Homo sapiens: one gene and its partners. The protein of the gene in region 4 purifies or fractionates together with the protein of the main gene of each other region. This does not show direct contact. Each region holds a gene or a part of one and is shown on either strand. Other genes may lie near its edges.

Region 1 (4,297 bases), on a different chromosome or scaffold from region 4:
GGAAATGCAGACAGGTTTTTAGTTCTATGCTGTTTAACTGCTGTAAGTGAGAGTAGTACAATGGTCGATTTCTTGTGACAAAACTAAATAATGAAAAATAGTTTACTCTGAAGTATGCAGCTGCTTCAAATGCTGAGGACCACAACTGGTTTTGTTACAAAGGCCGCAGTGAGTGCAGGCTCACGTGCTGTGGGCCAGGGCGACCCTGCCCGTGGTGAGTCCTCCACACCTTCTAGGCAGAGTGGGTTGTACGATGCCCAAAACCTTTCACAAGAAAAGATCGGACTCACTCATAGACCTAAGGACAAATTGAATTCAGTGCTAAACCATATTGCCCCCAGTGTACACCCCCAATAAATCACTTCCCCGGAGGTCTGTTTTCACAAGTCACCTGGAGAACGCCTTTGGGGCAGTAGGGTTCACTGTGTAGGTCTTGGGGTCTCTGTTGCCAGGCAGGGTGGCTGCTGTGCAGACAAACTGAACTGGGACCCGGATATGACGATACCCATGGGTAAGGCACTATGTGAAGAGTGACTATGCTGAGACCTCTGTTTTATAAAAACACAATTCTTGAAACATCAGCACCATCGCCTGTTGAGAGTGAGATCAGGTTTGGAAGCCCTTTGACACAGGAGCTGGTTTCTTTTGGCACATGGGGTGCTGGGTAGCATTGCGACTGAAGGCTCTTTAACAAAAAGCCACCCCCTCTGAGATCTTGAGCACAAAGGGATCTGAAAGTGTAACTGGGAACAGGGCAGGCCAGCAGGCCCTTCCTGAGCTGGAAATCAGGCGAGGAGGACTCTGGTTTGATTTCCCAATTCCACAGCAAAGATTTGGGGCAAATGTGAAACAGGAATACTTGGATTCCAGAGGAAGGTGGAGGGGCACCCCATGAGGGTTATTTTAAAGATGAGAGGCAAGGTCAGAAGATAGAAATGGAATGAGGTCGGGAGAGGCTAACCAGCCCAGGGTCTTGTGACCACGACTCCTTTTACATAAGGGACAGGTGTGCCAGATTCAGACCCTCATTGTACAGCCTTGCTCCTCTGGGTGGAACAGTCCAGCAACCCTCAGTACACTCCAGGGTCTCCTGGAAGGGCAATGGCTGTCCAAGCAAAGGTCCTGGCATCTTCCGTCTCTCCTTCAGGGTTCTCCTCCTCTCCACCCTGTCCTCTCACAGCCTAGACCCCCCCCTCCCCCTGCAGTGCTCTGCCCCCTTCAAACCTACTGGCATCACCCAAGTTAGAGGAGGCAGGCGGTGGTGGAAATCTGGCCCATCTATTTTATGAGAAGGTATTGATGACTAATGATGCTTCCATGAATTAGGCCTTCGTTTTACTATAAACTATTTTTTCAACCTCAAAGAATGAATCTCTACTTGAAGCAATTTAGAGCCAAACGTGGATCTGAGAAGGAAGATCTTCCTGGGTGGGGCCCAGCCAGGATGCTCAGGGCACTCACCTGCTCAGCCCTTCCGGATGTACTCAGAAGACAGCTCCCACCCACCCGCGTGGAGCACAGCCCAAGGAGAATGCAGTGCCCGGCTTCACTGTGATTTGGTCACCTAGTGTTAAAAGCATATTAAAGTGCATGCTTCACCATAGGCACGAGTGCTAGAAAAGCTAAAGCTCTGAGAAGATCTGGCAGGGAAGGGGATAGCTACAGGTGAGCCTGCCTTACGGCATGGCGGACGCACTCATTCATCATGCGCTGCACGCACGGTTCTGCAGCACTCACTCCAGCACACGACTGTGCTGCCACGCACGTGTTAGGTGCTACGGGTTCAACAATGATAAGGCACTGTCCCTGCCCTCAAGGAGCTTACGGTCTAGGGGGGTGACATTAGACTCCCAGCCCACAGAGACACAGCTCTGGGGAGGGATGGGGAAGCTCAGTTGCTCGGTGGGTGGGGTTAGGGCCTCACCAGCTCCCTCTGGCTGCTCTTAGTGGGGAGGTCTGTGCTTGTCTGGAGTTTGTCTGGAGGCCACTGAGTATGAGACACCTGCAGTCCCTGTCTTCCTTCCCCAGCCCCCGAGGAGGAGCACAGTTCTCTTCAGGCTCATCAGTGCCAGGGGACTCTTTTCAGTGACTGATAAAATGGTCTTCCTCTTCCTCTGGTCCATAAGGAAAAGGTGTACTTTTCTGAAGCAGCAGAAACCAGCTGGGAGAAAATGAAAATTAGCCTTCAGTCTGCCTAACTCAAGCCTGCCCTCGGGCTTGTGGTAAAAACTTCATGTCGTAATCCAGGCGTGGGAGAGAGCCGTGGGGTCCACTCAGCCTGGGAATGTCCCCCGCTGGAGGGCCTCGCCCTCTGGGTCAGGTCAGAGCAGGCATCGAGGTGCCCTCTCCGGTGCCGCCGCCCCAGGCCGAGCCTCCCACTCCGGGCCCGCCTTCGGTGCGGACGGAGATCAGTGGTTCTGAGCACACTACACAATGCTACGGAGGCCTCCAGTGACACAGTATTTCCTACTCTTACACATCGGCTGACTGGATGGCCAGTAAAAAGATGCAGTGGAGGTGAGCTTTCCAGTTCATGGGAAGCTCCAAGCAGCCTGCCTGCTGCAACACGACTTTGGCCACAGGCGGGAGAGGCAGTACAAAGCTGTGTGATCTGGAGGAAGCCACAGTGTCTGAGATGGGATCTCATCTGAAACCCTGGAGCCGTGGCATTGCTTCCTTCTATGTCAAGATAACGAAAGCCCGTGGTATCAGCTGGCTTCATTCTATTCCATTCTATTTTGGCTGTTGCAGAAAAACATTCTTCTGTTCCACTGCCTTCTGTTCACAGTCTGTCAGCTCGAAACGTCTCTTCAACAGAGGGGTCCAGCAGGCCCATGCTGGAGTCACTTAACATGTTGAGTCCGTCCAGGCTCAGGGGTTCAATCTGCAGCTCCTCTTCCAGTGGAAATGGAGTGTCCACGTTCAGGCTGACCTCAGGCAGGCCTGCCAGCGCACTGTTGAGGTCTTTGAACAGGCTGGTGCTGGAGTCTTCTGAAAGGAGTGGCCAGAGGGGAAAACAGTGCGGTTAGGAGGCGCGAAGGCTCCAGGCTACTAAGCAAACCCAGCTGATGACAGTCCCCTAAACTGCTATCCCACACATCCTGACCACCCCCAGGCCCACAGTTCTTGCCCTGGAATCTACATTCTTGTCAGTCAGTTGCACAACTCCCAATTTTTGCAGGTTTTTTCCTTTTGAACAGTCATCAGTCACCTAAGATGAAATCTTTTTTTTTTTTTGGAGACTGTTGCCCAGGCTGGAGTACAGTGGCACAATCTCGGCTCACTGCAAGCTCCACCTCCTGGGTTGGTGCCATTCTGCCTCAGCCTCCCGAGTAGCTGAGACCACAGGCGCCCGCCGCCATGCCCAGCTAATTTTTTTTGTATTTTTTAGTAGAGACGGGGTTTCGCTGTGTTAGCCAGAATGGTCTCGATCTCCTGACCTGATGATCCGCCCACCTCGGCCTCCCAAAGTGCTGGGATTACAGGCGTGAGCCACCGCACTGGGCCAGATGAAATCTTTCAGAAAAGGCTTTGACTACCAGGCCCACCGCCCTGTGTCACGGTCTCTGAGGCTGGACACCTGCATCTCAAAAAGTCAAGTCGACCCAGGGAACGTTAACTTTTTGCTTTATATAATATTATGTTGTTTAAACTCTCTTATGAAGGTTCCTGAACACACAACAACATAAAAGCAGTAAAGAAGCTGAGGGATAGCTCGCTCACCTGGCAGGATGGTGTTCGGGAGACTCCCGCAGTTGGAATACGGGCTTGGTCTCAAATGAAAAGAGTCCTGCAGTTCTCGGGAACCTTGTTGCACCAGAGGCACCTGGAAGCATCGAAGGTCATGTGAGGAAGGCCACACCTCTGTTTCCAAGGAGGAAGTGAGTATTGCAATGTGCTCCCAGAGCAAAACCTGACTTGCAAACTAATCCATATTCCCTTCTTTCCAGGATCCCAGAGTGCTTTGCTCTTATGGTAATGCATGCACAATATTCTTGTCAGGCAGGCAGACGCTGGGGTGGAGGAGGGGTCCCTGAGGTCCACAGCGTGGTGACTTTTCCCCAGCCCACTACACCATCCCAAGAGACACCAATGCTCATGGTTTCTGTGGCCCCTCAGACATCTGTCCTCAGCCTCACCAAGGCCTTTGCAAACTGCCTTCTGTGGGAACCCTTCAAAGGCTCTGTCTATAACCAAGGAAGTATGGACTCTTCTTCCTTGGTTTCTTTCTTCTTTTTTTTTTTAAAGATAGGGTCTCTGTTGCCCAGGCTGGAGTGCAATGGCGCCATCTCGGCTC
Region 2 (4,297 bases), on a different chromosome or scaffold from region 4:
TGTTCGTTCCCTCCGGTGGGTTCGTGGTCTTCCTGGCTTCAGGAGTGAAGCTGCAGACCTTCGCGGTGAGTGTTACGGTTCATGAAGATAGCATGTCCAGAGTTGTTCCTTCCTCCCGTCAGGAGTTGTTCTTCCCTCCCAGTGGGTTCATGGTCTCGCTGGCTTCAGGAGTGAAGCTGCAGACCTTCTCGGTGAGTGTCACAGCTCATAAAGGCGGCGCGGACCCAAAGAGTGAGCACCAGCAAGATTTAGTGCGAAGAGCAAAAGAACAAAGCTTCCACAGCATGGAAGGGGACCCCAGCGTGTTGCCGCTGCTGGCTTGGGTGGCCTGCTTTTATTCCCTTATCTGGCTCCACCCACCTCCCACCGATTGGTCCATTTTACACAGAGCTGATTGGTCCGTTTTGACAGGGTGCTGATTAGTATGTTTACAAACCTTCAGCTAAACACAGAGTGCTGATTGGTGCATTTACAATACTTTAGCTAGACACAAAAGTTCTCCAAGTCCCCACTAGATTAGCTAGACACAGAGCACTGATTGGTGCGTTTACAAACCTTGAGCTAGACACGGGTGCTGCTGACTGGTGCGTTTACAAACCTTGAGCTAGACACACGTGCTGCTGACTGGTGCGTTTACAAACCTTGAGCTAGACACACAGTGCTGATTGGTGCGTTTACAAACCTTTAGCTAGACACAGACTGCTGATTGGTGTGTTTACAAACCTTTAGCTAGACAGAAAAGTTCTCCAAGTCCCCACCCGACCCAGAAGCCCAGCCGGCTTCACCTCTCAATGGTGGGACTTCACGGCACCTAGCCCGGGCACTCCGGCAGCCCAGAGGAAGCTCGTCCCAGATCAAGCCCAGCAGGCGCCAGCCACAGCACCGGCTCCCGCCCACGCCTCTCCCTCCACACCTCTCTGCGAGCAGAGGGAGCCGGCTCTGGCCTCGGCCAGCCCCAGAGAGAGGCCCCCACAGCGCAGCAGCTGGCTGAAGGGCTCCTCCAGCGTGGCCAGAGCGGACGCCGAGGAGGCGCCGAGAGCAAGCGAGGGCTGCCAGCACGTTGTCACCTCTCACCTCCACGCCCAGCTAATTTTTGTACTTTTAGTATAGACAGGGTTTCACCATGTTGGTCAGGATGGTCTTGATCTCTTGACCTCATGATCCGCCCGCCTGGGCCTCCCAAAGTGCTGGGATTAGAGGCCTGAGCCACCGTGCCTGGCCTGCATATTTTTAAGGTTCACACACGTTATAACATGAATCAGTAACTCACTTCCTTTTATTGCCAAATAATATTCCATTGCAGGAATGGACCACATTGTGTTTATCCGTTCATCCGCTGATGGACATTTAGGTTGTCTCCACTTTCTGGCTGTTGTGAACACTCATGGACAAGCTTCTGCGTGGACGTGTATATTTCCAGTCACTCAACCAAAAGAACACACAAAAGGTGAACCAGTTTCCAACTGAGACATTCATTTAATTTGACCTACTATATTATTTAAAATATAGAGAGATGAGATAATTAGGAGAAATAAATGACCAAAGGAAGTGCAGAAATAAAGACACTAAGAGACAAGAGCAAACCCTGATGTGACGGAATAAACGGTGATTGAAGAAAGAGATGCTATTTCTAGGATGGGTCCTACAGGTACATTTGCAAAACACTGTGCCTATAGCCTTGCTGGTAACAGCATGAAAATTCCACAGCACCTCCATACAGCCAAATACAGTGCGGCCATGGAAAGAATGTACCGGAAAATGTACTGATATGGAAAGATCTCTCAAACATAGTTGAAAAAGGCAAGGTTCAGAAACTTTTTAAAAAGAAAAGGGTAAGGAAAAAAACAGAATACATACACTTGTTTGCTTGCAAAGTTACAAAGTATCTCTAGAAGGATACACAAGAAGCTGGTCCAGCAAAGCTTCCAGGGGAACCAGGTTCCAGGGTAGAGACTAGGAGGCTTCACTGAGCTCCCTTTGTACTTTTGAACCACGTATATTATCTGCTCAAAAATGTTAAACAAAATTGAAACTTTCTAGGAAGCAAAAATAGAGAATCTGTGAGAATCAAGACATTTACACTTAGGAAAGCAAGTTACAAGAGAGGCCCAGGAAGATGGAAGCAGCCGACGTGGGAAATGTGTCAACGAGTCCCTCCCCCTGCTGCGCCAGCCATTCTCTGAGGGCAACTCCCCATCCTAAACCCAATCATCTTTACTGAAGCCAGTGCTCAAAGAAAATGTTGCAATCTGCAGCAAGACATTCAGAACACAAACAGCCAAGTGCCATGGCTCATGTCTACAATCCTGGCACTTTCGGAGGCCGAGGTGGGAGGATCACTTGAGCCCAGGAGATGGAGGCTGCACTGAGCTGTGATCATACCACTGCACTCCAGCCTGGACAACCCACCCTGACTCTCTCTCTAAAAAAAAAAAAAGAAAATACAAATGTATCTGCTGCCCTCAAGGACTTCCCAGTCTAGAGGGGAGAAAATATTATGTGATTGTGCAGTGACCAAAAGCACCACCTAGAGCACTACGAGAGGGGGTGGAGCACCTGAGGACAAGGCAGCGATCCAGGAGGCGCTCCCACAGACATTACCTGAGTCTGAGTCAAAGGGCTGAAGGAACCAGTGAGCTTGGCTTAGTTTTGGAAGGAGGGACGCCAAGAAAGACTTGGCCCATGACCACATGGCAGTTTTTCTGGAGAGCAGAGTAGGTTGGGGTCACGCAGCGCTGTGGAGCATGGTCCAGGAGGCACTGGGGAGCCAGGGAGGAGAGCCAGGCAGCAGAGTCACTCGCCTAGACGCTCTGAGCCTGGCGCCATCCTGTGCACTGTAGGATTTCAACAGCATCCCCAGCCTCCACAAATCCTTGGCCATCCCCTCCTAGTTGGGACAACCAAAAATGTCTCCAAATATTGCCAAATGTGGCAGGAGGGCGGGGAGTGGTGTCAGAATCACCCCTGGGGAGATCACTGCCCTGTTTATATCATCTGAGCAGCTATGTGGCAGAGACAGGGGAGTGGCTCAAGGCTGGGGCAGGAGAGCCCCAGGAGGTACAGCGTAGTGCAGGAGGGACATGGTGCAGGTCCCACTCAGGCAGGGGTTCTGATCACTGTTCAGGGGGAACTGGCAAGAGGACCTGGAGCCGTACCACATGGCAGCTGAGAGGGGGACCCAGCACGCCAAAATTCTAGGTGGTGACCAAGCAGGTGAAGGTCCCAAAGCCCCAAAGGGTTGAGGCCAGAAGTGAATGTGGGTGCTGAGTCTGAGCCGCCTCAGGGGCTCTCGCGCATGGTGGCCGGCTCCAGCGTCCAGCATCTGCGGCTGAGGGGAGACATCCAGCTGCACCTTCAGTCATGGTGAGATGGCCCAGACAGCAGGTACGGGCTCCTCAGCTCTGCTCAGCACAGCGTCCGAGCAGGGGCTCACCTTCCCCATAGGAGGCTGTACGTCACACCCTGCTTTGGTCCGTGGACCCTGAGATGCCAGTCCAGGATGGTGCCGGAAAAGACACTAGGTTTCTGCCACTCTCTTGCCATAAAAACAGCATGTGCCACATAAGGCCTGGTCCTGGATCTGGAAATGAAGACTCTTGGAAAAGAGTCACAAGCAAACGAAACGCGGGCAGGAATCAGCCTCTGCTGCTGTGAGCGCTGCAGTGCTGGGGTTGCTACTGCAACTCGCTCTGGAGAAAGCTGTCCAGTAAACTCCTGGATTTGGATTTCTTCCTTCACCAACCCATCCTACAGAACATTGCCAATTAAATCTCCCTAAACCATTAATCAGGACATCCCCTGCTCACAAAGCTGCCTGCGGTGGCTCCCGGTTAGCTAGAAAATTAAAATCTAGGCCGGGCGCAGTGTCTCACGCCTGTAATCCCAGCACTTTGGGAGGCCAAGGCGGGCGGATCACGAGGTCAGGAGATCGAGACCATCCTGGCTAACACAGTGAAACCCCGTGTCTACTAAAAACACAAAAAATTAGCCGGGCATGGTGGTAGGCACCTGTAGTCCCAGTTACTTGGGAGGCTGAGGCAGGAGAATGGCGTGAACCCAGGATGCGGAGCTTGCAGTGAGTCGAGATCGCGCCGCCGCACTCCAGCCTGGACGACAGAGCAAGACTCCATCTCAAAAACAAAAAGAAAATTAAAATCTAAAGCCTTTAACTGGAATTCAAAGACCTTCTCATTATGACCCTTATCTCCCATTATTCCTTACACAACCTTTAAACCGCTAGAAACCACACATAACCAACCTTCTCACCTTTGCTCCCAAAATGTGAAAATACTTCTGT
Region 3 (4,297 bases), about 160 Mb from region 4:
TATCTATTTTTTAAAATTATTATCATTATTGAGACGGAGGCTTGCTTTGTCACCCAGGCTGGAATGCGGTGGTGCGATCTCGGCTCACTGCAACCTCTGCCCCCCAGGGTTCAAGCAATACTCTGCCTCAGCCTACCTGGGATTACACGTGCATGCCACCATGCCCGGCTAATTTTTTGTATTTTTAGTAAAGATGGGGTTTCACCATCTTGGCCAGACTGCTCTTGAACTCCTGACCTCGTGATCCACCCACCTCAGCCTCCCAAAGTGCCGAGATTACAGGCACGAGCCACCACGCCCGGCCAGAATGTTTTAATTTTTTTTTTAATAGAGGCAGGGTCTCACTGTGTTGCCCAGGCTGGTTTCAAACTCCTGGGCTCAAGCAATCCTCCCGCCCTGGCCTCCCAAAGTGCTGAGATTATAGGCGTGAGCCAACACGCCCAGCCAATATCTTTTTTATATCCTATATTGTTACAAAAAGATTTAAGAGTTACTCAAAACGAAGTACTTGTTAGATTAGCCTCCTTATTAATCTTATTCAAAGAAGTTTTTACTATATTGAAAGGTTTAATCATGAATTTTAAAATATTCATTTAAAAAATTTTTTTAAAAATTGCTTCCATTCTTACTAGTTCTTATTTATGTAGTAATATTTTCTCAAAACAAGGTATACAAAATAAAGATTGAGAAGCAGATAAAATAAATGAGAATTGGTCCCTAAATTTAAATGTTAAAACAAAAAACTATAAAACAGCCACAATATAATTAACAATCAAGATATTTCAAGAATCTCCCTGAGACAAGATTTAAGTCTCTGTCCTGTTTTATTAACATGTATCAATTTCTCAACCATAGCCCCAAATATTCCTATTTCTTTAATGAAGAATTCCAGCATCTTCACCCCTCTGACAATCTTCTCCTACAGTTCAAGAGATAAATTAAAATGATCATCTTTTCAACTGGCATATTCATTTTTGGATCAATTCTCTTATAGATGGTTTTGAGATTTAGTAAATCAAAGACAACTAAAGATCCTTTTGAGATCTGAAAGATATTTTTATGTGATCTTGACCTTTGTTTAAGTATGTGAATTTCAAAGAGTATTTGAGCTGGTCCAGGTCCACAGACAAGCTGTTTCCCTTCCTAACACTACCTAGGTGCCTAGGTATGTTTCAGACATTGTGCTTTATATGCTTTGTCTCATCTAATCCTCACAACAATCCAAACTATAGACAAAGAAACTGAACCTCAGAGATGTTAAGTTTCTTGCTCAAAATCATTCGGCTAAAACACAGCAGAGTCAGGACTGGAACTCAGGCCTATCTGACTTAAGGGCCAGCACCCTTCACCAGCACGGAATACTATCACCTTCATTTTTTTATCCAAGTGATTTTTGAGAAATGAGTTTTTTATTCAACTAAAGTTAGCAAATGTCTCCTTTTGCTTTCCAGAACTCACTTTTCAGCTGTCACTAGGACCTCTGTTTGCTTCAGCTGTGTTTGTGTCAGATCACTGTCTGTAAGAATAGAGGAAAATATATTAATGTTATTGTTCTAGTTTGCCTTAATATCGTCATCTTACTCTAGAAACAATATTTAAGACTTATCTAGGTTAGAAAGATGCCTAGTTACATGTTTCATTCTGGAATCTATATATTTCGATGGCCTCCAGAATTAGGAAAAATAGAAAAATGCAAACAATTCCAAAGCAACATGCAAGTAAATCATGCACAGATAATTCTGGAAGTTCAACTTTAAAAAGGTAAATTTAGAGGTCTTAAGAAAAAAAATGAATAACTACATATTTATATATATGAATATTCATCCCTGAGATTTTTTCTTTTTAAAAACTTAGTTTTATGTCTTCAAAGGGAACATGATTACCCAGCAGACTGCCAAAATGTATTACAAACACTTACCTGTCTTTTCTACTTTTGGTACCTGCTGTACCTCATACACACAGTTCTGTGAGATACCTAGGTTTGGGGGCCAAATTGGAATAGATAAAATTCTTTGTCCCCGTGAAGACTGTTCCTGGCCAGATACCTAAACAAAATTTCAACAGGTATCTTAAGTGAAAAGATTTTAAATAGCTTATGAGTTGAAAAATTTATGTCTTAAATAAAAGGTAATCCAAAAGTGGTAAATTATTACCCTTTATTCATTGTATTAAGTGATTCTTTGGACTTATAAAATCTTCTTTTCTTTAAATACAATTCAGAAAGCACTTATCATTTACATAAAAATGACAATCTTTTTCCCATACATGCTTTTCTTTAATTTGGACATACAAATCATCTATCGCTTTGAACTAACACTATTCATCATTTTTTACTACCTGCAATATAGTTCCTATTGTATCAAATATAGGCATGCTCACAGGTACTGCGGGTTTGGTTTCAGGCCACCACAATAAAGTGAGTATCTCAATAAAGCAAGTCACATAATTTTTTCAGTTTCCCAGTGCATGTAAGTTGCGTTTATACTATACTGTAGTTTACTAAGTGTGCAATAGCATTATGCCTAAGAAAATACATACCTTAATTTAAAAATACTTCATTGTTAAAATATCCTAACAATCATCTCAGCCTTCAGTGAGTCATCATCTTTTTACAGGTGGAGGATCTTGCCTAGATATTAATGACTGCTGGCTGATCAGGGTGATGGTTGCTTAAAGTGGGGGTTGGCTGTGGCAATTTCTTAAAATAAGACAACAATGAAATTTGCTGCAGCCATTGATGCTTCCTTTCATAAAAGATTTTTCTGTAGCATCTGATGCTATTTGACAGCACTTTATCCACGGAACTTTTTTTCAAAATTGGAAACCCTTCCAATGTTTTATCAATTAAATTTATGTAACATTTAAAATCCTTTGTTGTAATTTCAGCAATGTTCACAGCATCTTCACCAGGAATAGAATGCATCTCAAGAAAATACTCTGCTCATCTATAAGAAGCAACTCCTCATCTATTTAAGTTTTATCATGAGATTGAAACAATTCAGTTAATTCTTCAGGCTCCACTTCTAGTTCTCTTGCTATTTCCACCACATCTACAGTTACTTCCTCCCCTGAAGTCTTGAACCCCTCAAAGTCATCCATGAGGGCTGGAATCAACTTCTACCAAACTCTTTTTAATGGTGATATTTTGACCTCCTCCCATGAATCACGAATGTTCTGAATAGCATTTAGGATGCTGAATCCTTTGCAGGTTTGCAATTTACTTTCCCCAGATCCATCAGAGAAATCACTTCTATGGCAGCTATAGCCTATGAAATGTATTTCTTAAATAAGGAGACCTGTAGGTACAAAATTACTCCTTGATTCCATAGGCTGCAGAATGGATGCCGTGTTAGCAGGGATGAAAAAACATTCATTTCCTTGTACATCTTCATCAGAGCTCTTGGGTGACCAGGTGCCTTGTGAACGAACAGTAATCTTTGGAAAGGAATCTGTTTTTCTGAATAGTGGTCTCAGCAGTGTGCTTAAAATATTCTATGCCATAAACAGATGCACTGTCATCCCCAAGCTTTGTTTTTCCACTGACATAGCACAGGTAGAGTGGATTTAGCATAATTTTTAAGTGCCCTAGGATTTTCAGAATGGTCAATGAATGCTGACTTTAACTTAAAGTAACAAGCTATATTAGCTCCTAACAAAAGAGTCAGCCTGTCCTTTGAAACCAGGCACTGACTTCTTCTTTCTAGTTATGAAGTCCTAGATGGCATCTTCTTGCAATATAAAGTGGTTTCATCCACATTAAAAATTGTTGGCCAGGTGCGGTGGCTCATGCCTGTAATCCCAACACTTTGAGGGGCTGAGGCAGGAGGATTGCTCAAGCCCAGGAGTTCGAGACCAGCCTGGGCAACATGGTGAAACGCCACCTCTACCAAAAAATATTAAAAAATTAGCCCGGCGTGGAGGCATGCACCTGTAATCCCACCTACTTGGGAAGCTGAAGCAGAATCGCTGGAACCCAGGAGGCAGAGGTAGCAGTGAACCGAGATCGTGTCACTGCAGTCCAGCCTGGGCAACAGCGCGAGATCCTGTCTCAAAAAAAAAAAAAAAAAAATCTATTATTTAGTGTAGCCACCTTCATCAATGATCTTAGCTAGATCTTCTGGATAACCTACTGCAGCTTCTACATCAGCAGCACTTGCTGCTTTACCTGTACTTTTATGTTATGGAGATGGCTTCATTCTTTAAACCTCATAAATTAACCTCTGTTAACTTCCAACTTCTCTTCTGCAGCTTCCTCATCTCTCAGCCTTCAAAAAATTGAAGAGACTTAATGCATTCC
Region 4 (5,096 bases):
TGGGAGAGTCCAGGGAGAACTTTGGTGACCAATGCCCAGAGAACCTTGGTTGGGGATTAACAAGACTTTCTTCCCCATGGCCTGTGTCTGAGTGGCCCAGAGCTTTCTAGAACCCTCAAGATAGCCCTTGTGACAGACACAAGAGGACTGAGCACCTATGGTGGGAGAATGGGAAGTTCAGTTGGGACACTCACCCTCGCAGGGGGTCAACAGCGATGGCCCGGGGTTCACTGAGGTTACGGCTGAAGAGAGTGCGTCGGCGGCCACCATCAACTGTGGCCACTGAGATGGTCTTATTGCCCGAGTCAGTCCAGTAGATGTGCTTGTGGACCCAGTCCACTGCCAGGCCCTCTGGAGAGTGCAACTGCTCGTCAATGAGGACCTCCTGCTCTTTCGGGTCACTGGCCTTGTCCATGTAGGCGCTTAAGAGAAAACAGAGATGACCATGGGGCAGATGTTCCACCCATGGGCCCATCTGGAGCTACCTGTGCACCCTTCCCCTCTCTTCCATCTGGGCCATGGCAATAGATTTTTAGAGGAACGTGGATAATTTCCACTCTACACATTCCCTGGGGTACCAGGGTAGGGGTACAGACTTACATGGGCCACGGTCTCTGGCTTTCTAAGGTGGGGCTGCTCCACAGCTCTGCCCATTAGGGTGAGCCAGATATAATACAATGTGATTATGGAAAGCATTAGAGGCTATGGCAGCAGAGGCATGGAGACTGCCTCATCCGAGAGGGCGGGAGAAGGCTTTATAGTTGAGTCCTGAAGGACGAGTTCACCAGGAGCATGAAGTCACCAGGACAGAAAGCCATTAGGGAACAAGAAAGGCTTGTGCAAATGGCCAGAGGTGAGTCTGCTCTGGAACAGTGAGATACTTAGGGGAGCTGCTTATGTGGGTGTCAGACTGCAAGCAGGTGTAGGCAGGAACCCCATCTTGATGGGCTTTGAGTACCACGCCAAGGAATTAGGATTTCTCCCCAGTGATAACTAGACAGGCCAGAGGATATAGTCCAATAAGCATGTTAGTTCACTGTGGCATCTATGGAGTGGATGGGTTGGAAGGAGAGGGAATGAAGCAGGGAAACTGGTTAGGAGGACGTTACAGCATCTGGGTGGGAGATTAAGAGAGTCTGAAGAATGACCGTGCCAGTGAGAATGGAAAGAAGGGCTAAGAATACAGTAGACACTCAGGAGGCAACATTAGCAAAATAGCAAATGCTGTTTCCCCAGAGGTTTTCTTCTTCTTGCCCTCTCTCTGGGTGATTAGTTCCTTAGTGTCCACTGCCATCAATAACTAAGTCTCCAATCCCAACAGCTCTCTTACGATCCAGACTGCAAAGCTAACTAGCTCCCCTTGGATGTCCCATGGACACCTTGAACTCAATATGTCCAAAACTGTTCATCCCCATTCCCTTCCCCTCGGCCAACCAGACGGCCCAAACCCTGAGCCCTGATCCTCCTCTACTGCTTCACACATCAGAGAACAGCACCACCATTCATGAAACCTCCCAAGCCAAAAACCTGAAACTCCCAAAATTCACTATGAAGGAGTAAATTTCTTCCATCAGCCCCATATCTAGTCTGTCACCAAATCCTGCCTCTTTCAGTTACATCTCTTGGACAGGCATTGTTCTAGTTATGTTTTTGGGTGTGTGTGAACGGAGTGTCTGTATGTTGCAGGGAGGCAGGAATCTAGTTGTCAGTGAGTAGCACTTGCTATATTTGCTTCCATCCACTCTTCCACCCATCTGTCCCATCATTCTTTCATCAGTGACTCAGTGTCTACCCAGCGCCTGGTCATCGGCATTCCTGCCAAGTGGATCTCAGGACAAAGAAAGGACATGACTGCCTGAAGAGGGCCCAGACATGCAGTGGGGCAGGTGCTGGCATCTGAGAAAGTCCTAGGAGAGAACCTCCTCCAGTGTGTGAAGAGCTTCCCAAGCACCAGGTCCACTGACTGTGGCGTCAAAGACAGTGAAAAGCTGGCCTTGGGGTGATGCCATCCAGGAAGGCATGCCAGATCAGATGCCCAGGTGGGTTCGGAGGCCTCCTCTGTACTTTCTCATGATCATCACAAATGGATGTCACTGTGTTGTGAGTGGGATCCTCTGGGCAGGGACCAGGTCTAAGTCCCCAGGTTCCAACACACAGGGATGTGAGCTGCTTGGAAAGTCCTCCCCAAAGCCAGGATTTCTTCCTTTCTGCCCTGGCCAAACAGTTCCTGTGTCTTGTGCTTCCATATTAGGCCTCCAGAGGTCAGACAAATCCCAGGTGTTTGGGGCTCAAAGCTGCTAACCCAAGGGAGCCCTCAGACTACTCCAGCCCCAGTAAAGTCCCAGAAGTTCCATATCCACTGTGATCCTGCATCTCTTCCCAAGTCCCAACTCTGTCCTGAGGAGCTCTAGAGGCAGACACCACTCCTCCCCTCCTCACCTGTCACCACCCCTCACCCCCACTCTTCATGCCTTGCTGCAGAGGATATGGCCGCTCACCTATAGATCTTACGGTAGGAGAGGTCACACCAGTAGATGCGATTGGTGGCAACTTCCACATCTAGTGCCACGACATTCTTGAGCATGGGGATGAGGCGTGAATAGTTCCGCTTCACCAGGTCGATCCTCCGCACCTCGTGCCGGTTGGTGAAGATTAGGGATGGGCTCTTGCCAGCTGTCATGCAGGGAGGTTGAAAGAGAAAGAGTCAGTGCAAGAGGCAGGGAGCCTGGAGACCAAGACTCTGCCACTGGCTTGCTGGCTGACACATCCATTTTCCTTAAAATAGTAGTGACAATTCCTACTTTACAGGTTGCAGGAGCAGATGAAATAATGAGTACAGAAAGCAGAAGATGCAGAGCACCACGCATAGCAGGAAGATTCTTATTCTTTTTATTAGATACAAACTTCTCCAAAATCTTTTATGGCTCCCCATTTTCTCCTTAGGCCTGCACTGAAAGCCTTCCACAGTGTGACCCCAAGTTCCCTGTCCAGCCTCATTACTCGCCTCTCCAACATAGCTTGATTCCACCTACCAGATACCATTACCTAGCCATGGATGGGCTTCCTGCCTCAGAGCCTTTGCTCAGGTTGTCCCTTCCACCTACTATGTATTTCTTTCCAGCAACTATCATCTTCTCTGCTTGGGCCCTACTGCTGTGGTTCAAGAAGGAACTACCTGAGCAAGTAAGTGTCTTAGAAAGATAACTAGGGGCCAGGCACAGTGGCTCACACCTGTAATCCCAGCACTTTAGGAGGCTGAGGCTGGCACATCGCTTGAGGCCAGGAGTTTGAGACTAGCCTGGGTAATATGGCAAAATCCCATCTCTAAAAATAAAAATAAAAAAAAAATTAGCTGGGCATGGTGGCACATGCCTGTAGTCCCAGCTACTCAGGAGGCTGAAGTGGGAGAATCATTTGAGCCCGGGAGGTTAAGGCTGCAGTGAGCCATGATTGTGCCACTGCACTCCAGCCTGAGTGACAGAGACTCTGTCTCAAAGGAAAAAAAAAAAGATGATTCAGGATAGAAAGTATTGGGGACATAGCAAGAGATGAGCTTCAGAGATTGGCAGGGGCCAGATCACAAAAGGTCCTATGAGCTGGGTGAGTTTGTTCTCTATCCTGAGCCAATGGCAGAGATGGGACATATATGATATACAACACAGATTATATATATGCAGTAGAGACAACATAAACTGCTCATGTATACACAAAACCTGTATTTTTCTTAGATTTAGGGTTAGATTTTAAGATGATAAATAAGTGACCTAGACTTTCCTGGCTACTCCATATGGGAGGACACTGTCCCATGGGCCTCTGAGGGCCTAGCACCAGCTCCCACAGGCTGTTTCTAGATGTATTGGGCCACTCTCAGGCACCAACACTGTCTGAGGGGCTGCTCCTAGTAACACCTGCCCCTCAAGCTCCCTGTGCCTCCTTCTCTTGTTTTCCAGCTGACACTTCTGCCAGCCACCAGTCCCTGTCACTGTGCATCTTTGCCAAGCTAATGTGCTCCCTGGAGGATGGGACCAGCACAGAGTCAGGTAGGGCCTGGGGCTGGGTGTGTGACCTGTGTGTAGTGATGGAGACTAATTCAAAGCAGGGTGGGAGTGAGACAGAAGTGTGGTACAAATAGCATGGAGAATGGGCTCAAGGTGCAGGAAGGGGCAAGGATGAAAGCTGAGTTACAGGCCAGCTCTGCCACTGACAAGCTGTGATTTCCCTCACCCCAAAATGACAGTAATGACACTTCACCTCCCTGAAGGCAGGAGCCAGGTTAAAGGGGCATGTTGGAGTGATCTTAAATGACAGCTGTGACTGTGACAGGAACCCCCTGTGTTTATGATTTGAGATTTTATGTAACTGCACTTGAAATATTCATGTGTGTGGATTTTGTATATGCATGGGTAGTTGCATGTTGTCTCCAGTGCATGTACATAATCTGTGTCATGTATTACATGTGTTCTATATGGGGGCAAGAACAGGTTACACGTTATATGTGATATACTAATGTATGAGTTACATATTGTACAGTTTGGGTGTTACAGTTTTTGGGTTTATGGGCTACATGTCAGTATTATGGCTGCTGTATTGTTATAATTTATCTGTTGTATATTGTATTTAACTTGCATATGAACTCCAGACTCATATATCCAGCTGCCTTCTCAATATCTCTACTTGGATACCTAACCAGTTTTCTTAAACATAACATGTCCAAAACAGCCTAAGATTCCTCCAAACCTGCTTCCCTCACCATCTTTCCCAAGCCCATACGTAGCAATCTTATTTTTTCAGTTGCTGTAACTTTTTTTTCCACATTCCACATTCAATTCATAAGCAAATCCTGTTGGCTGGCCTTTGCACTATATCTGCAGTCTGTCCACTTTTCATTATTCCCACAGTAATAATGTGGGAATAAGGGTTCAGCCACCATCACCTCGCTTCTGGATTATTGCAATGACCTCTTAAGTGGTTTCCCTGCCTTCTCCCTTGTCCTCTACAGTCTGTTCTCAATACTGCAGTCAGAATAAAATGTCACACCATGTCCCTTCCCTACTCAGAGCCCTCAATGGTTTCCCCCCAGTTAGAGTGAAATCCAG

Evidence for each region.
Region 1: the proteins of LRP8 (region 4) and CRTC3 purify together in Homo sapiens (affinity purification with mass spectrometry; one large-scale study listed by BioGRID and IntAct). This does not show direct contact.
Region 2: the proteins of LRP8 (region 4) and ARHGAP39 purify together in Homo sapiens (affinity purification with mass spectrometry; one large-scale study listed by BioGRID and IntAct). This does not show direct contact.
Region 3: the proteins of LRP8 (region 4) and ANGEL2 purify together in Homo sapiens (affinity purification with mass spectrometry; one large-scale study listed by BioGRID and IntAct). This does not show direct contact.

What each region holds. Positions count from the first base shown.
Region 1 is NC_000015.10:90,640,626-90,644,922, reverse strand, and holds part of CRTC3 (CREB-regulated transcription coactivator 3), read right to left. Parts: intron 3,882-4,297; exon of another isoform or gene 3,827-3,881; coding exon 3,724-3,826; exon of another isoform or gene 3,666-3,723; intron 2,992-3,665; coding exon 2,783-2,991; 3' UTR 1-2,782. UniProt on the Homo sapiens protein: Transcriptional coactivator for CREB1 which activates transcription through both consensus and variant cAMP response element (CRE) sites.
Region 2 is NC_000008.11:144,675,847-144,680,143, forward strand, and holds part of ARHGAP39 (rho GTPase-activating protein 39), read right to left. Parts: intron 1-4,297.
Region 3 is NC_000001.11:212,998,868-213,003,164, forward strand, and holds part of ANGEL2 (protein angel homolog 2), read right to left. Parts: intron 2,046-4,297; coding exon 1,919-2,045; intron 1,517-1,918; coding exon 1,459-1,516; intron 1-1,458.
Region 4 is NC_000001.11:53,263,975-53,269,070, forward strand, and holds part of LRP8 (low-density lipoprotein receptor-related protein 8 isoform 1 precursor), read right to left. Parts: exon of another isoform or gene 3,951-5,096; intron 3,184-3,950; exon of another isoform or gene 3,122-3,183; intron 2,674-3,121; coding exon 2,499-2,673; intron 2,040-2,498; exon of another isoform or gene 1,778-2,039; intron 423-1,777; coding exon 195-422; intron 1-194. UniProt on the Homo sapiens protein: Cell surface receptor for Reelin (RELN) and apolipoprotein E (apoE)-containing ligands. LRP8 participates in transmitting the extracellular Reelin signal to intracellular signaling processes, by binding to DAB1 on its cytoplasmic tail.